Homo sapiens: one gene and its partners. The protein of the gene in region 1 purifies or fractionates together with the protein of each later gene. This does not show direct contact. Each region holds a gene or a part of one and is shown in the gene's direction. Other genes may lie near its edges.

Region 1 (4,024 bases):
AAGACCACCCTGGCCAATATGGTGAAACCCCATCTCTACTGAAAATACAAAATTAGCTGTGCGTGGTGGCATGCGCCTATAATCCCAGTTACTTGGGAGGCTGAGGCAGGAGAATCGCTTGAACCCAGGAGGCAGAGGTTGCAGTGAGCTGAGATCGTGCCATTGCACTCCAGCCTGGGCAAAAAGAGTGTCTTGACTGTTCTTGTACACTTACTTTTCCAGATGAACTTTTATATCAGCTTTTGAGTAACACAGCTATTGAATCTTCCTCAGCATTCTTGTCTATGCCAGGCACCAGGCTCTTGAGCAGGGTATTCAGTCCTTGCCCTTGGGAAATCACAAACTAGATGCAAAGTGTAACCAAACAAGAAGTGTAAAATAACAACAGGAATCTCACGCTATGGGTAACAAGAACCAAATGAGTGAGGGGTCCAGACAGACTAAATGCTGTGTTCCTTGGGGCCAGGCAAGTCATGGAAGGTTCAACAGAGGTGACATTATACAGGACTTTGATGGGTGAGCAGCAGCTTTCGGTATAGAAGAAATGCTTTGAGTTGAGGAAGTCCGGGAAAGCTTCTTGGAGAAGGAGACACATTTCTATTGAGAGATGAGTAAGAGTTTGCCGGGTTCACAGGATGGGATAAAGGGAGGGATTGCCCTGAACTGGGAAAGTCACAAAAAGGTTCTCTGAAGACATTTTAGATGCGTTTTGAGTTGGAGTCGGGGAAGATGCCTGGAAGAGGCAATTAAATAAAAAGAATTTTATTACAAAAGTAATACAAGGACATGTCATTGGAACCGGGTTTCGAGAGATGAGTGAGCAGTTCCTGACGCAGACAAGAGCTGGACCACGAAGTAAGTTGAGGCAGAGGCAGAAAAGGCTTCCTGGTCCTGCCCACTCTCTAAGACCTAAGATGCAGGGTCTAAGTGTCTCACCTGCGTGGCGGCGGCCCTGTAGTTCTGACTTCCAGCGTGAGGTAGCCACCGCCAGGCCTCCGGGGGAGAAGACTACAGTAAGGGCGAGCAGAGCTGAATGCTTTATGTCGGAATCGACCAATGGGATGGCGGCACCCGGTTGCCAGGGCTACGGCCAAGCGGAGGTAGGGCCTCGGCACTATGGGCGGGGCCTGGGCGGGGTTATATAAGCCAGCGGCGGGCGGAAGGCGGGGCGTGGGGGTCTGTGGCTGCTGGGCTGGCGGGGCGCAGGCCGCGGGACCCGAGCCCGGGGAAGCGAGAGAGCGGAGGCGCCGAGGATCCGATTCACTCCCTGGGGAGACCTATGGGCCGAAGCCGTGTAAATGCGTTTTAAGGCGAGTGCGGAAAGTGGCCTGGGGAGCCTCGGGGAGCGGACGCCCTCCGCCCTGGTGCTGACCTGCCTCCCTGCCCCTTCTGCCTCCTGTCAGCAGAGGCCTCGGCTCCGCAACTGCCACTCCTCCTCGGGGTGTTGCACAAGTTTCGAGGTCACCGGCGACCCCCCCTAGCAGCGCGCCTGGCTCTGGCCCCCGCGAAGGAGGACGGAGTTTGGTAAGGGGCCCTGGGGGTTGGGGGGACCTCAGCCCTGCACTCTGTAGGAGTCACTCGGACAGAAAAAACCTCGGCCTTCCGTTCTCTCCCAGGAGCTTGCGGCCCCCACCCACCGCGTGGCGTCCCCAGGCACGCCTAGAATTCTAGCACCTCAGGATCAGTCCAGCCCCCATTTACAATTGGGGAAACTGCGGCTCCGAAAGGGTCAGAGGGTACCCGAGGTCAAGCAGTAGAGAGCGGACTCGAACTTAAGCTCTTGCTCTTAGGCTGAGACGCCTTGATGTGGCCACCGGCTACCCTCTAGGTGGGCGTGGTCAAGACTGGGGGCGCCCTGGAAACTTCCCCACCCAAGTTTCTCAGATTTTCTGTTCCATCTCTCTCTCACTCTTTCCTGAAATCCAGAATTTCAGAACTGGGAAGGCTCTCCAAAACAATTCATCCATTTTACAGAGGGAGCAACTGACTCGGAGAGGCAGTGACATTTGGGCATACGGTGCCTTGTCTCCGTCTGAAATCCGGGATTCTTGACTTTCTCCACCCTTGCCCAGTGAACCCCGGGCTTGTGCTGGGGGCGGGTTGTGACGGGATTGGGATCCCTGGCCTCGGGAGGCGAGTGGGGCAGCAGAGCCGGCCCCCCAGCGGTTCCCTTCATCTCCCCTCGCCCCGCAGTGTGTTGCATACTTTCTAAGGCGGCGGCTGCAGCAGCGGCTCCATCCAGCCCGTCAGCTCCTCCTGCAAGGCATGGCTGGCTACCTGAGTGAATCGGACTTTGTGATGGTGGAGGAGGGCTTCAGTACCCGAGACCTGCTGAAGGAACTCACTCTGGGGGCCTCACAGGCCACCACGGTGAGGGGCTGGGAATGGGGGTGGGTCCCCGGTCCCCTGTACAGATCAGCTGCCTCCTCAGGAAGGGTCCCTAGGGCCCTCATCTTATCCTTTCGCTTATTTGGTACGCAATCCTTGCTATTTGCAAGAGAGGGGCTCAATTTATCCCCAATTCTTTGTCCTTGCCCCCAAACCTGCCCCTCCTATGTTGCCTTTTTACCCAGCCCTCCAAGGTCAGAAACGGGGGATTCCTTTCCTGCTGCCCCCTCTCCCTCACCGCCCACATCTAGGCATTACCAAGCTCTGTGAATTCTGCCTCCTTAAATAAGCCTCCAGTGTGCTTATGTGGAACCTCGCTTTCTAGTTCAGTCTTCCTCTCTCCAAAGGCCCCCTGATCTCCCGGTCTCATGCCACCCCCTCCAAAGGTATCATAGTCCTGTTCAAAATCTGAATTTGGCAATTCTCCACTGCCTACAGGATCAAGTCAGAGCTTCCCTGCCTCCATAGCCCCATTCCCAGCTTTCCCCACAGTATATATTATGCTCCTTCGGAGCTGAATGACTCAATTTGCATTTCCCAATGATGCTGTGTGCCCAATGATGCTATTACCATGCCTTTGCCCAGGCTGTTCCTTCTGCCTGCAGCATCCTTCTCTCAGCCTCTCCCCTCTTTACCCCTTTCTAGTCATTCCTTGCTTCTCATCAGTGTTGCCTTTCCTGATCGCCCCAGGCAGATTTTCTATTTTCTTTCTCCATGCCCCTGCATTGCACCTTGTAGAAACTGCCATCTAACATCTGCTGAATGGACTTGTAAGTACTTAAGGGGTTCCTTTTCTTCCAGACCCAAGCTCCTTCAGAACAACAGTACTGTTTGGTCATCTCTGTCCCTTAGCATAACGTTTGGCACCAAGTGGGCATGAGTAAAAAAGTGTTGCATGAAAGGGAAACTGAGTCCCAGGGAAGCAACTCTGGAAGGGTCCCTTCCACATTTAAGTAATGTGGTCTCACCCACAGCCTCATACATGTTTGGCCTTTAGCACATCTACAATGAACAGTTGTCCATAGGGATAGGTTGCAGTGTCAGTGGGACTAGCTTAAGGCTTCATTGAGCACCTGTGTTTGGAAGGCAGTGAGCTGTAGGTCATAGCTTCTGCCTTTAGGGAGTTTACCCTTTTCTAGAATGGACAGATGCATATGCAGTTCTGATACCTTGGAAGCATATGCAAATGCAGTGGGAGCATTTAAAAGCAGAGTTGCCTTATTGGTTTGGGGAAGGTGGCATTTGAGTGAAACTTTAAGGATTTTGCCAGACACAGGAGTGGGGAGGGTATTCTGCAGGACATGGTGGGAACAAAGGTTTGAAGGTGGGAAAATGATCCAGCCTACAGCTGGAGTTTTAGCCGCATTGAGGGGAGGGATTGGGGCTAGATCAGAGCCTTGAATGCCAGGCTGAGGAGTTTGCCTTCTGCCCTGTAGGCTTGGGGAGGCCCAGAAAACTTAGCAGCAGGGTAGCTCTGTGGCCAGTACTGAACCTGGGTCAGGTACTTGGAAGGATCACGGATGGCATGCACAGGGTGCGAGCTGGATGGGGTCTCACATTCATCCACTTCTTGTCATTCAGGACGAGGTAGCTGCCTTCTTCGTGGCTGACCTGGGTGCCATAGTGAGGAAGCACT
Region 2 (3,563 bases), on another chromosome or scaffold:
ATCTCAGCTGACTGCAACCTTCGCCTCCTGGCTTCAAGCATTTCTGCCTCAGCCTCCCAAGTAGCTGGGAATACAGGTGCCTGCTACCATGCCCAGCTAATGTTTGTATTTTTATTAGAGACAAGCTTTCACTGTGTTGGCCAGGCTGGTCTCAAACTCTTGGCCTCTGGTGATCCACCCACCTTGGCCTCCCAAAGTGCTAAGATTACAGGCGTGAGCCACCATGCCCAGCCCACAGTGGCTATGATTCTCTTGTACATTTGTACATTTTTGGAGGGCAGTTTGACAGTAAATTAAGGCGTGCACTCAATTTTTCAAATTTTACTTCTAGGAATTTATCCTAAGGAAATCATCAGACTAGTCAGATTTATAAATGAGAATATTAGTCATGCTGTTTATAATATTCAATAATTAAAAATCTAAGTTTTTATCAACAGATATACTATTAAATAAATTATAGTCCATTCAGCCATAAAATATAATGTTGATCAGTGGTTCCTAACTTTGGAGATCATTGAACCCTATAAGAACCTGAAGAAACTCCAAAATTGAAGGTCTTGGTATCTGGTTAGTATATATTGCTATCGGAAGATGTCCATACTATGGACAAAAAGCTGTTGTATGTATAATAATTTTTAAAAATTGTCATGTTGTCCAGGCGCAGTGGCTCACGCCTGTAATCCCAGCACTTTGGGAGACTGAGGCAGGCAGATCACCCGAGGTTAGGAATTCTAGATCAGCCTGGACAACATGGCGGAACCCCATCTCTACTAAGAATACAAAAATTAGCTGGGCATAGTGGTGCATGCCTGTAATCCCAGCTAGTCAGGAGGCTGAGACACGAGAATTGCTTGAACCTGGGAAGCAGCGGCTGCAGTGAGCCGAGATCCTGCCACTGTACTGCAGCCTGGGTGAGAGACAAGACTCTATCTCAAAAATAAGATAAATAAAATAAAATAAATAAAATAGTCATCCATAGAAAAAAGCCTGATTAATATATACCAGTACATTAATGATGATTATCTCTAAGTAGTCATCATTATCTTTTTAGTTTTTCTGTATTTTTGCAATGAGTGTGTATTATTTTTATAATAAGAAAAATTACATTTTTAAAAATAAAGGAGAATTTAGAAAACAACAGAAAAGTAATAGAAGGAAATAAGCTAGGGAAACTATTAGCCACCTCTGTGACATACAAATAATGGTTTTTACATGTAAAGGTATTTCCTAACTCCCAGTAGGAAAAAAAAAAAGGGGGCAACCTGTATAAATAGATAGTTCATCAAAGAAATGACACCAGTAGCCAATTAAAAGATAACGAAAACACCCAATTTCACTAGTAATCAAGTTAGTGAAAAATAAAATTTTTTTTTTTACCCCATCAAGTCAGTAGAGGTTTTAAAAATGTGCGGTGCTCACTGTTGATGAAAGTGTACGAAGATGGACATGCTAATACATTAGTTATTGGAAAGCAATTTGGCAATAATATCAGGAGCCTTAAATTAAGTTTTTTCTTTTTGCTATCGTACTTTGGTTTGTAGTCCAATCTAAGAAAATCACCAAAAATTGGCATCCTCTTAAAAACTTTCCATTTTAATAGCATTCTTGAGGTATAATTGACATGCAGTAAACTGCACATAATGTGTACAATTAATGAGAATCAAGATAGGAAACATATCTGCCACCCGCTGCCCCCACCCCCAGAGTTTTCCTTTGTAATCACGCCCTCCTGCCCCTTCCCTCACCCTCCCATCCTCAAGCAACCTCTGGTCTACGGTCTGTCACTAAGGATTAGTTTGCGGATTTTTAGAATTTTATATAAATATGGAATATAATGGAATATAAATGTGGAGAAAAGGACATTCAGGATGTACTTTTTTTTTTTGAGATTTATCCATGTTGTTGTGTGTCTCGTTCCTTTTTAGTGTTCACTCCTTGGTTTTCCTTTTTTTTTTTTTTCTTTTTTGGTTATCTAGACCTGCAGATGTTCACTCCCTTTTAGTGCTAAATAACATCCCATTGTACATCATCTGTTCACTTGTTGATGGACATTTACCAACATATCCTTTTAGGAAAAATTTGAGACCCCTAAATCTGCAGAAATAGAAGGGTTAAATTATGCTGTTGCTGCATAATGACAAAGGGCCATTAAAAATGATATTTTAGAACACTTAACAATACAGTTTTACTTATAATGTGTTTTATTGGGGGAAAACAGGATATAAAACTTTTTATTTAAAAGATATATATACCATACACATCAAAAAAAGAGACAGGAAAAAGTAGATTGGTTAGATTACTAAATGTTTTTATTTTCCTTATCATGTTTATCACTAGCAAGAATAAATAAATGCCATTTAAAAGAAAATAACTAAACTAAACATGCAGTTACCATACAACACAACAATTGACTTTTGAGCATTTTTCTTTGGGAAATGAAAACTTAGGTTAACAGAAAAACTTGTACACACATGTTCATAGCAGCTTTATTTGTAGTAGCCCCAAACTGGAATCAACTCAGATGTCCTTCAACAGATGGATGGTGAAACTATGGTATATCCATACTGTGGGCTATTTCTCAACAATAAAAAGAAGAAAATTATTGATACAGGTAACAACTTGGATGAATCTCCAGAGAGTGCTGAATGCAAAGGCCCATTCCAAAAGGTTATATGCTGTGCAATTTATATAACATTTGTATAGCATTCTTTTTTTTTTTTTTTTTTTTTTTTTTTTTGAGACAGAGTCTCGCTCTGTCACCCAGGCAGGAGTGCAGTGGTGCCATCTTGGCTCACTGCAACCTCTGCCTCCCGGATTCAAGTGATTCTCCTGCCTTGGCCTCCTGAGTAGCTGGGATTACAGGCGCACACCAGCACATCTGGCTAATTTTTGTATTTTTAGTAGAGGCGGGGTTCCGCCATGTTGGCCAGGCTGGTCTCAAACTCCTGACCTCAGGTGATCTACCTGCCTTGGCCTCCCAGAGTGTTGGGATTACAGGCATGAGCCACTGTGCCTGGCCTATAGTGCATTCTTGAAAAAAAAAAAAAAAATTGGCCAGGTGCAGTGGCTCACGCCTGTAATCCCAGCACTTTGGGAGGCCGAGGCAGGCGGATCACCTGAGATCAGGAGTTTGAGACCAGCCTGGCCAACATAGTGGAACCACGCCTCTACTAAAAATACAGAAATTAGCCAGATGTGGTGGTGTGCGCCTGTAATCCCACCTAGTTGGGAGGCTGAGGCAGGAGAATCACTTGAACCCCAGGGGGCGGAGGTTGCCGTGAGCCAAGATCGTGCCACTGCACTCCAGCCTGAGTGACAAGAGTGAAACTTCATCTTAAAAAAGAAAAAGAAAAAAAATGTTTTTAGAAATTCAGGTCAGATTAGTGGCTATCAGGAGCTAAGGACCGTGGAAAGAGGAGGGAGGTAAAAGGATCCTTGCAATGTTGGAGTTGTTGAGTATCTTAACATTGGAGGTGAATATATGAAAACCTACACAGGTGATAAAATTGTGTAGAACACACACATACAGTAAAACAAGAAATCTGAAGATCAGTGGATTGTAT
Region 3 (3,618 bases), on another chromosome or scaffold:
GCGCGGTGGCTCATGCCTGTAATCCCAGCACTTTAGGAGGCTGAGGCGAGTGGATCACCTGAGGTCGGGGGTTTGAGACCAGCCTGGCCAACATGGTGAAACCCCATCTCTACTAAAAATACAAAATTAGCCTGGCGTGGTGGGCGCCTGCAATCCCAACTACTCCAGAGGCTGAAGCAGGAGAATCGCTTGAACCCAGAGGAGGCGGAGGTTGCAGTCAGCCTAGGTCACATCATTGCACTCCAGCCTGGGCAACAAGAGCAAAACTCCATCTCAAAAAAAAAAAAAAAAAAAGAAAGAAAGAAAAGAAAGAAAGAAATCCCCGAGGGCTTGGCACCAAAGAGCCCTAACGAAGGGGACTCTCTGACACGTGTCCTTGCTCTGTCCCAGTGAGCCAAGCCCCCCGAGAGGCCCCTGCTCGTCGGGCCCCATCCTCAGCGCAGTACCTGGAAGAAAAGTCTGACCAGCAAAAGAAGGAGGAGGTAGGCATGGGAGAGAGCAGCTGTGCGGAGGTGACAGAGTCCTGGCTGCACCTGGCCACGGCCCCTTAGTTCTCCATCCCCAACCCAGACTGGGACAGCAGCCACATGTCACGTCCCCTTCACACCAGAGCCTGGTGGGGAGACCTTCCAGAGCCCTACCACTGACCATGGGGCCCGGGAAGTGGGGGAGGGCAGTGGGAGCCCTGCCCTGGCCAGGCCAAACCCAGCCTAAGCCGGCAGTTCTGGGCCCAAGTGCTTTTGGGACCTTGGAGTATATTTTGAGCACTTGAGGCCATGTGCAGAGATAGTAGCCCTTGTATCTGGTGCCACATGCCGCAGCCTCTCAGTCTCTTACTCCCCCTGTCTCTTCTTTGTGTCTTTTTCAATAGAAACCCATCGATTTTGTCAGGGCTGTAATTAAAATGGCTCTTTTGAGGCCGGGCACGGTGGTTCATGTCTGTAATCCTAACACTTTGGGAGCCCAAGGCAGGCGGATTGCTTGAGCTCAGGAGTTTGAGACCACCCTGGGCAACACGGTGAAACCCCGTCTGTACTAAAATACAAAAATTTAGCCGGGCATGGTGGCGGGCGCCTGTGATCCCAGCTACTCGGGAGACTGAGGCAGGAGAATCACTTGAACCCAGGAGGTGGAGATTGCAGTGAGCCGAAATCGTGCCACTGTACTCCAGCCTGGGTGACAGAGCGAGACTCCGTCTCAATAAATAAATAAATAAATAAAAATAAAAATAAAAATAAAATATAGTGGCTCTTTTGGCCAGGCATGGTGGTTCACACCTGTAATCCCAGCACTTTGGGAGACCAAAGCAAGAGGATATAAGTGATGGAGTTTGAGACCCAGCCTGAGACCAGTGAAACCCCATCTCTACAAAAAAATTTTTTAAATTAACCAGGTGTGGCCAGGCATGGTGGCTCACGCCTGTAATCCCAGCACTTTGGGAGGCCGAGGAGGGCGGATCACCTGAGGTTGGGAGTTCGACACCAGCCTGACCAACATGATGAAACCTCGTCTCTACTAAAAACACAAAATTAGCCGGGCATGGTGGCGCATACCTGTAATCCCAGCTACTTGGGAGGCTGAGGCAGGAGAATCGCTTGAACCCAGGAGGCAGAGGTTGTGGTGAGCCGAGATTGTGCCATTGCACTCCAGCCTAGGCAACAAGAACAAAACTCTGTCTCAAAAAAATAAATAAATAAAATAAAAATTAACCAGGTGTGGTGTTACACACTTGTAGTCCCAGCTACTTGGGAGGCTGAGGCAGGAGAATTGCTTGCACCCAGAAAGTCAAGGCTGCAGTGAGCCATGATTGCACCACTGCACTCCAGCCTTGGTGACAGAGCAAGACCTTGTCTCTCTCTAAAACAAACAAACAAACAAAAAGGCCGGGCGCTGTGGCTCACGCCTGTAATCCCAGCACCGTGGGAGGCCGAGGCGGGCGGATCACGAGGTCAGGAGATCGAGACCATCCTGGCTAACACGGTGAAACCCCCGTCTCTACTAAAAATACAAAAAATTAGCCGGGCATGGTGGTGGGCGCCTGTAATCCCAGCTCCTTGGGAGGCTGAGGCAGGACAGTGGTGTAAACCCGGGAGGCAGAGCTTGCAGTGAGCCGAGATCGCGCCACTGCACTCCATCCAGCCTGGGCGACAGAGCAAGACTCCGTCTAAAAAAAAAAAAAAAGTTCTTTTCACAGCCTTGTCAGGGTTGTTCTTGGAGTGGGAGAGGGAACAGGGAGTCCTATTCCCTTACCTACCCTTCTTCTGCCCTCTCTCCCAGCTGCTGAATGCCATGGTGGCAAAACTGGGGAACCGGGAGGACCCACTCCCCCAGGACTCCTTTGAAGGCGTGGACGAGGACGAGTGGGTGAGTAGTGAGTGGCCTCACTTCCCGGCAGGCAGCGCGGTCCCTCGCACATGCCACGGTGCATGCCTCCTCCCTTCCCAGGCCCTCCTGACTCCCTCCCACCTCTTGGTGTTTCGCCCCAGGACTAGCCTGCGCCCCCGTCACCTCCACCTCACCTGTGCTGCCACTTCCTAGTGCACACCTCACGGCTCATCCTCAAGCTGGAAGATACCTCTCTGGCCCCGGCACATGTCACCCCTGCACTCCTGCCTTCCCGTGGGCACTTCCACATCCTCTGGGCCTCTGGCAGTTCCCAGGGACTGTTTTCACCTCTGCTGTCTCTGGGGTCAGCTGCTGCTCATCAGCTGCCCGCTAGCATGTGGCCAGGGGTGCAGGGTGGCGGGGGGTCAGCAGCATGTCCCTGGGCAGGCCCTGGGCACCCTGTCTCCCCTGGTCTCACTGCTGACCTGGGCTGGTCCCAGCCTGGATTGGCCTCATCCAGGATCTTTGGTCACCCCACGCTGCCCCATCTTGCCTGCTGTTCCAGTTCTGGTCAAGGGCCTTGGGGGCTGGCCCCCCACCAGGCCTTCTAGAGCAGCACCAGTCTCAGGGCCCTGGGACCAGCTGCCCTACTTCCCAGGTTTGTAGCCAGGAGAAGGGGGCATCACAGAGCTGATGGTCCAATAAGGGGGGTGTGAGCCCCGCAGGGACTGGCCCGCACCTGCCTTGGATGTTTTCAGCAATTAAACTTTTTTAAGCTGGCCACCTCTTGTGCTGCTGTGGTCTCTGGGCTGGCTGGAAAGGGAAGGGGACAGGAATGTGGGTGACAGGGGTCTGGCCCTGGGCTCCCCTTTATCTCAGCCTCACTCTGGTCCCAAGGCCCAATCACCTGCGCACTGCTGGGAGTCATTCGCTCACCATGCAGGTTCCTGGCAGTGCTCTGGATGGCGGGATGCTATAAAGGACAGGAGAGATAAGGTCTTGCAAGGACCTTCAGCTTCTTACAGCCTCCTTATGCAGGGGAACCAGACTGCACACGAGCATATAGAGTGTGAAGACAGCAGTAAAGAAGAGAAACTGGCTGGGCACGGTGGCTCATGCCTATAATACTAGCACTTTGGGAGGCCAAGGTGGGAGGATCGTTTGAGGCCAGGAGTTCAAGACCAGCCTGGCCCACATGGTAAAACGCTGTCTCTACTAAAAATACAAAAAGTAGCCAGGTGTAGTGGTAAGCGCCTGTAATCCAAGCTACTTGGGAAGCTGAGGGAGGAGAAT
Region 4 (3,563 bases), on another chromosome or scaffold:
AGCTTCCCCGCCCCTCACGCCTTAGGCTGCGAAATATGTATTCATAAAACCTCCAGGCATCCTCTGAGGACGCCTCACACAGGAGAAAGCTGCTAGTTCCCTTTGGCTCTCTTGCCCTTTGGTTATATCTGCCCCTGCCGGGGGTAGGGATGTGGGGCTTGGGGGCATCTCCTGTGGTGTGCCTGGGGTGTGCAGCCCCTGATTGTCGTTGTGGTGCCCATCAGGACCCTGGACAGAAGAAGGGAGGACTCAGTGCCAGGGCAATAGGGAGGCCCCCTAGGGACGCTAGTGCTGTGACATGTGTCAGAAAGGCGCAGTCAGCAGCAGCGGCTGGGTGTGTTTGGTGGGAGGTGGCACCTACCACCCCGTGGTTCCCACCCAGGGGAGCCAAGTCCTCTTCCTTGGCTGTAGTCCTGCCGAGGGTCTCTCCTCAGTTTTGAGTCTCAAGGTGAAGACGCGGTTTGTGGGTGGCTGAGGGGTTGCTCCATGGGGGCTCCCTCCCTCCCTCCTTTCCTTCCTTAGATGGACGAGGTGGGTCGCATTCTCTGTAACCTGTGCGGTGTGGTTCCTGGAGGGGTGGTCTGTTTCTTCCCCTCCTACGAGTACCTGCGCCAGGTCCATGCCCACTGGGAGAAGGGTGGCCTGCTGGGCCGTCTGGCTGCCAGGAAGAAGGTGAGTGGCCTGTCGGCAGCCTTCCCACTTGTGAGGACAGTGCCACTGAGTCCTCCTGGGAGCTCTCGTGCTCATCGGGTCAGGACAGGCTTCTGGCTCCTCATCCCCACCGCTCCCAGTCCCTGACTACAGAGGATTTCCCCCAAAGTCCCTGGCTGTGAGGTTCTCCAGTCCCCTGGCCAGAAAACACAAGGCCACGAGCAGACTCGAGACCTGGCACCCTGAACCTGTCTCTGGGAAATGTCCTCTGTCTTTCTCAGATATTCCAGGAACCTAAGAGCGCACACCAGGTGGAGCAGGTGCTGCTGGCATATTCCAGGTGCATCCAGGTGCGGGCGTCATGCTGGGCTTGGGTCTGAGATCGTGTGGGGGTGGCAGCTGGAAACGTTGTGGGTGTCATCCAAGTTTTGGCTCAGCAACTCAGCGTCTGGGTTTCTCCTACAGGCCTGTGGCCAGGAGAGAGGCCAGGTGACAGGGGCCCTGCTCCTCTCTGTGGTTGGAGGAAAGATGAGTGAAGGGATCAACTTCTCTGACAACCTAGGCCGGTAAGTAGTGGTTCTGCTCGTCTCCTGGGCCGTGATACATGGCCGGCCCTCACTCCCAGCAGCTGGGCCCCTGCCTGCTCTCTGCTGCCATTAGAGCCCACAGCTGGGCTGCGACTGCTCAGACCAGCCAGCTGGAGGGAGGGGCTCAGCAGCTCTGGGTTTGGTCCTGGGAGAGCAGTTGGATTTTAGGCTACCCATTGCTGTATCAGGACCCAGTCAATTGGCCTAGACGGGATCTCTCAGCCGAACAAGCCCTCTCCAGGTGGTAGGTACAGAGTGGAGAGAGGCTGAGTTTTGATCACAGTCGGAGAGGCTGAGGGAAGGGGTAGAACGGAGCAGCTGGTGACGTGGGTGATGACCCGGGAGGTCCTGACGTCCACCTGCTGGGCTCTTGTCTCCCCCGCCCAGGTGTGTGGTGATGGTGGGCATGCCCTTCCCCAACATCAGGTCTGCAGAGCTGCAGGAGAAGATGGCCTACTTGGATCAAACCCTCGTGAGTGACCCCAGTGTCACAGAGGGTGACAGGAGAGTAGGCAGTGGGTGGGAGTGGCATCACCCCCAGGGCTGATACAGCCAGGCCTTCCCCGCTGCGCTGGCGTCTCCTGCCCCCTCCGGAAGCTTGGATGCCCCTCCACACCCTCTTGATCTTCCCTGTGATGTCACCTGGACCCCTGCTGCTGGCATTGGCCACGAAGCCTCCTGGTCTGGCTCCAAAGCCTGGCAGGGTCTTTTCCCAGGGGGAGCTGCAGGCAGGGAACAGTCCTGATGGGTCTTCCCCTTCACTCCCAGCCCAGAGCCCCCGGCCAGGCACCCCCAGGGAAGGCTCTGGTGGAGAACCTGTGCATGAAGGCCGTCAACCAGTCCATAGGTGAGCCTGGCTGCCTCCAGCTGGGTGGACAGATGGGGGCTGGAGAAAGGGAGAACAGGAAAGAGGGGTTGCCTGCCCTGTTTCCTATATAAGTCTGAGGAAGGGGAGGGGGTCGCCGTGGGAATGTGCTGTAGGGGGGAGGCAGGTGTTGCTCGGAGCCCCAGCCTCTGTTCCTATGCAGGCAGGGCCATCAGGCACCAGAAGGATTTTGCCAGCGTAGTGCTCCTGGACCAGCGATATGCCCGGCCCCCTGTCCTGGCCAAGCTGCCGGCCTGGATCCGAGCCCGTGTGGAGGTCAAAGCTACCTTTGGCCCCGCCATTGCTGCTGTGCAGAAGGTCAGTCCTACCTTTTTCTTTCTGAGAGCCTCCCCACCCCGAGATCACATTTCTCACTGCCTTCTGTCTGCCCAGTTTCACCGGGAGAAGTCGGCCTCTTCCTGATGGGCAACCACACCACTGCCTGGCGCCGTGCCCTTCCTTTGTCCTGCCCGCTGGAGACAGTGTTTGTCGTGGGCGTGGTCTGCGGGGATCCTGTTACAAAGGTGAAACCCAGGAGGAGAGTGTGGAGTCCAGAGTGCTGCCAGGACCCAGGCACAGGCGTTAGCTCCCGTAGGAGAAAATGGGGGAATCCTGAATGAACAGTGGGTCCTGGCTGTCCTTGGGGCGTTCCAGGGCAGCTCCCCTCCTGGAATAGAATCTTTCTTTCCATCCTGCATGGCTGAGAGCCAGGCTTCCTTCCTGGTCTCCGCAGGAGGCTGTGGCAGCTGTGGCATCCACTGTGGCATCTCCGTCCTGCCCACCTTCTTAAGAGGCGAGATGGAGCAGGCCCATCTGCCTCTGCCCTTTCTAGCCAAGGTTATAGCTGCCCTGGACTGCTCACTCTCTGGTCTCAATTTAAAATGATCCATGGCCACAGGGCTCCTGCCCAGGGGCTTGTCACCTTCCCCTCCTCCTTCCTGAGTCACTCCTTCAGTAGAAGGCCCTGCTCCCTATCCTGTCCCACAGCCCTGCCTGGATTTGTATCCTTGGCTTCGTGCCAGTTCCTCCAAGTCTATGGCACCTCCCTCCCTCTCAACCACTTGAGCAAACTCCAAGACACCTTCTACCCCAACACCAGCAATTATGCCAAGGGCCGTTAGGCTCTCAACATGACTATAGAGACCCCGTGTCATCACGGAGACCTTTGTTCCTGTGGGAAAATATCCCTCCCACCTGCAACAGCTGCCCCTGCTGACTGCGCCTGTCTTCTCCCTCTGACCCCAGAGAAAGGGGCTGTGGTCAGCTGGGATCTTCTGCCACCATCAGGGACAAACGGGGGCAGGAGGAAAGTCACTGATGCCCAGATGTTTGCATCCTGCACAGCTATAGGTCCTTAAATAAAAGTGTGCTGTTGGTTTCTGCTGAGTTTTTTATTGATATGTGCTGCTGTTTTCTCTGGAAGCCTCTTTAGGGAATCGAGGAGCGCACTGGTGCAGGGG

Evidence for each region.
Region 2: the proteins of AZIN2 (region 1) and SMARCAL1 purify together in Homo sapiens (affinity purification with mass spectrometry; one large-scale study listed by BioGRID and IntAct). This does not show direct contact.
Region 3: the proteins of AZIN2 (region 1) and CORO7 purify together in Homo sapiens (affinity purification with mass spectrometry; 2 studies listed by BioGRID and IntAct, with this or other methods). This does not show direct contact.
Region 4: the proteins of AZIN2 (region 1) and DDX11 purify together in Homo sapiens (affinity purification with mass spectrometry; 2 studies listed by BioGRID and IntAct, with this or other methods). This does not show direct contact.

Annotation. Positions count from the first base shown.
Region 1 is NC_000001.11:33,079,985-33,084,008, forward strand, and holds the start of AZIN2 (antizyme inhibitor 2), read left to right. Parts: upstream 1-1,168; 5' UTR 1,169-1,310; exon of another isoform or gene 1,311-1,403; 5' UTR 1,404-1,524; intron 1,525-1,616; 5' UTR 1,617-1,828; intron 1,829-2,193; 5' UTR 2,194-2,265; coding exon 2,266-2,370; intron 2,371-3,033; exon of another isoform or gene 3,034-3,158; intron 3,159-3,969; coding exon 3,970-4,024. UniProt on the Homo sapiens protein: Antizyme inhibitor (AZI) protein that positively regulates ornithine decarboxylase (ODC) activity and polyamine uptake.
Region 2 is NC_000002.12:216,471,421-216,474,983, forward strand, and holds part of SMARCAL1 (SWI/SNF-related matrix-associated actin-dependent regulator of chromatin subfamily A-like protein 1), read left to right. Parts: intron 1-3,563. UniProt on the Homo sapiens protein: ATP-dependent annealing helicase that binds selectively to fork DNA relative to ssDNA or dsDNA and catalyzes the rewinding of the stably unwound DNA. Rewinds single-stranded DNA bubbles that are stably bound by replication protein A (RPA).
Region 3 is NC_000016.10:4,354,032-4,357,649, reverse strand, and holds the end of CORO7 (coronin-7), read left to right. Parts: intron 1-390; coding exon 391-482; intron 483-2,277; coding exon 2,278-2,364; intron 2,365-2,486; coding exon 2,487-2,492; 3' UTR 2,493-3,108; downstream 3,109-3,618. Other genes in the region: CORO7-PAM16 protein, read left to right, coding at 391-482, 2,278-2,364. UniProt on the Homo sapiens protein: F-actin regulator involved in anterograde Golgi to endosome transport: upon ubiquitination via 'Lys-33'-linked ubiquitin chains by the BCR(KLHL20) E3 ubiquitin ligase complex, interacts with EPS15 and localizes to the trans-Golgi network, where it promotes actin polymerization, thereby facilitating post-Golgi trafficking.
Region 4 is NC_000012.12:31,101,311-31,104,873, forward strand, and holds the end of DDX11 (ATP-dependent DNA helicase DDX11), read left to right. Parts: intron 1-522; coding exon 523-672; intron 673-932; coding exon 933-1,001; intron 1,002-1,116; coding exon 1,117-1,217; intron 1,218-1,625; coding exon 1,626-1,710; intron 1,711-2,006; coding exon 2,007-2,085; intron 2,086-2,266; coding exon 2,267-2,421; coding exon of another isoform or gene 2,422-2,496; coding exon 2,497-2,526; coding exon of another isoform or gene 2,527-2,723; 3' UTR 2,724-3,489; downstream 3,490-3,563. UniProt on the Homo sapiens protein: DNA-dependent ATPase and ATP-dependent DNA helicase that participates in various functions in genomic stability, including DNA replication, DNA repair and heterochromatin organization as well as in ribosomal RNA synthesis.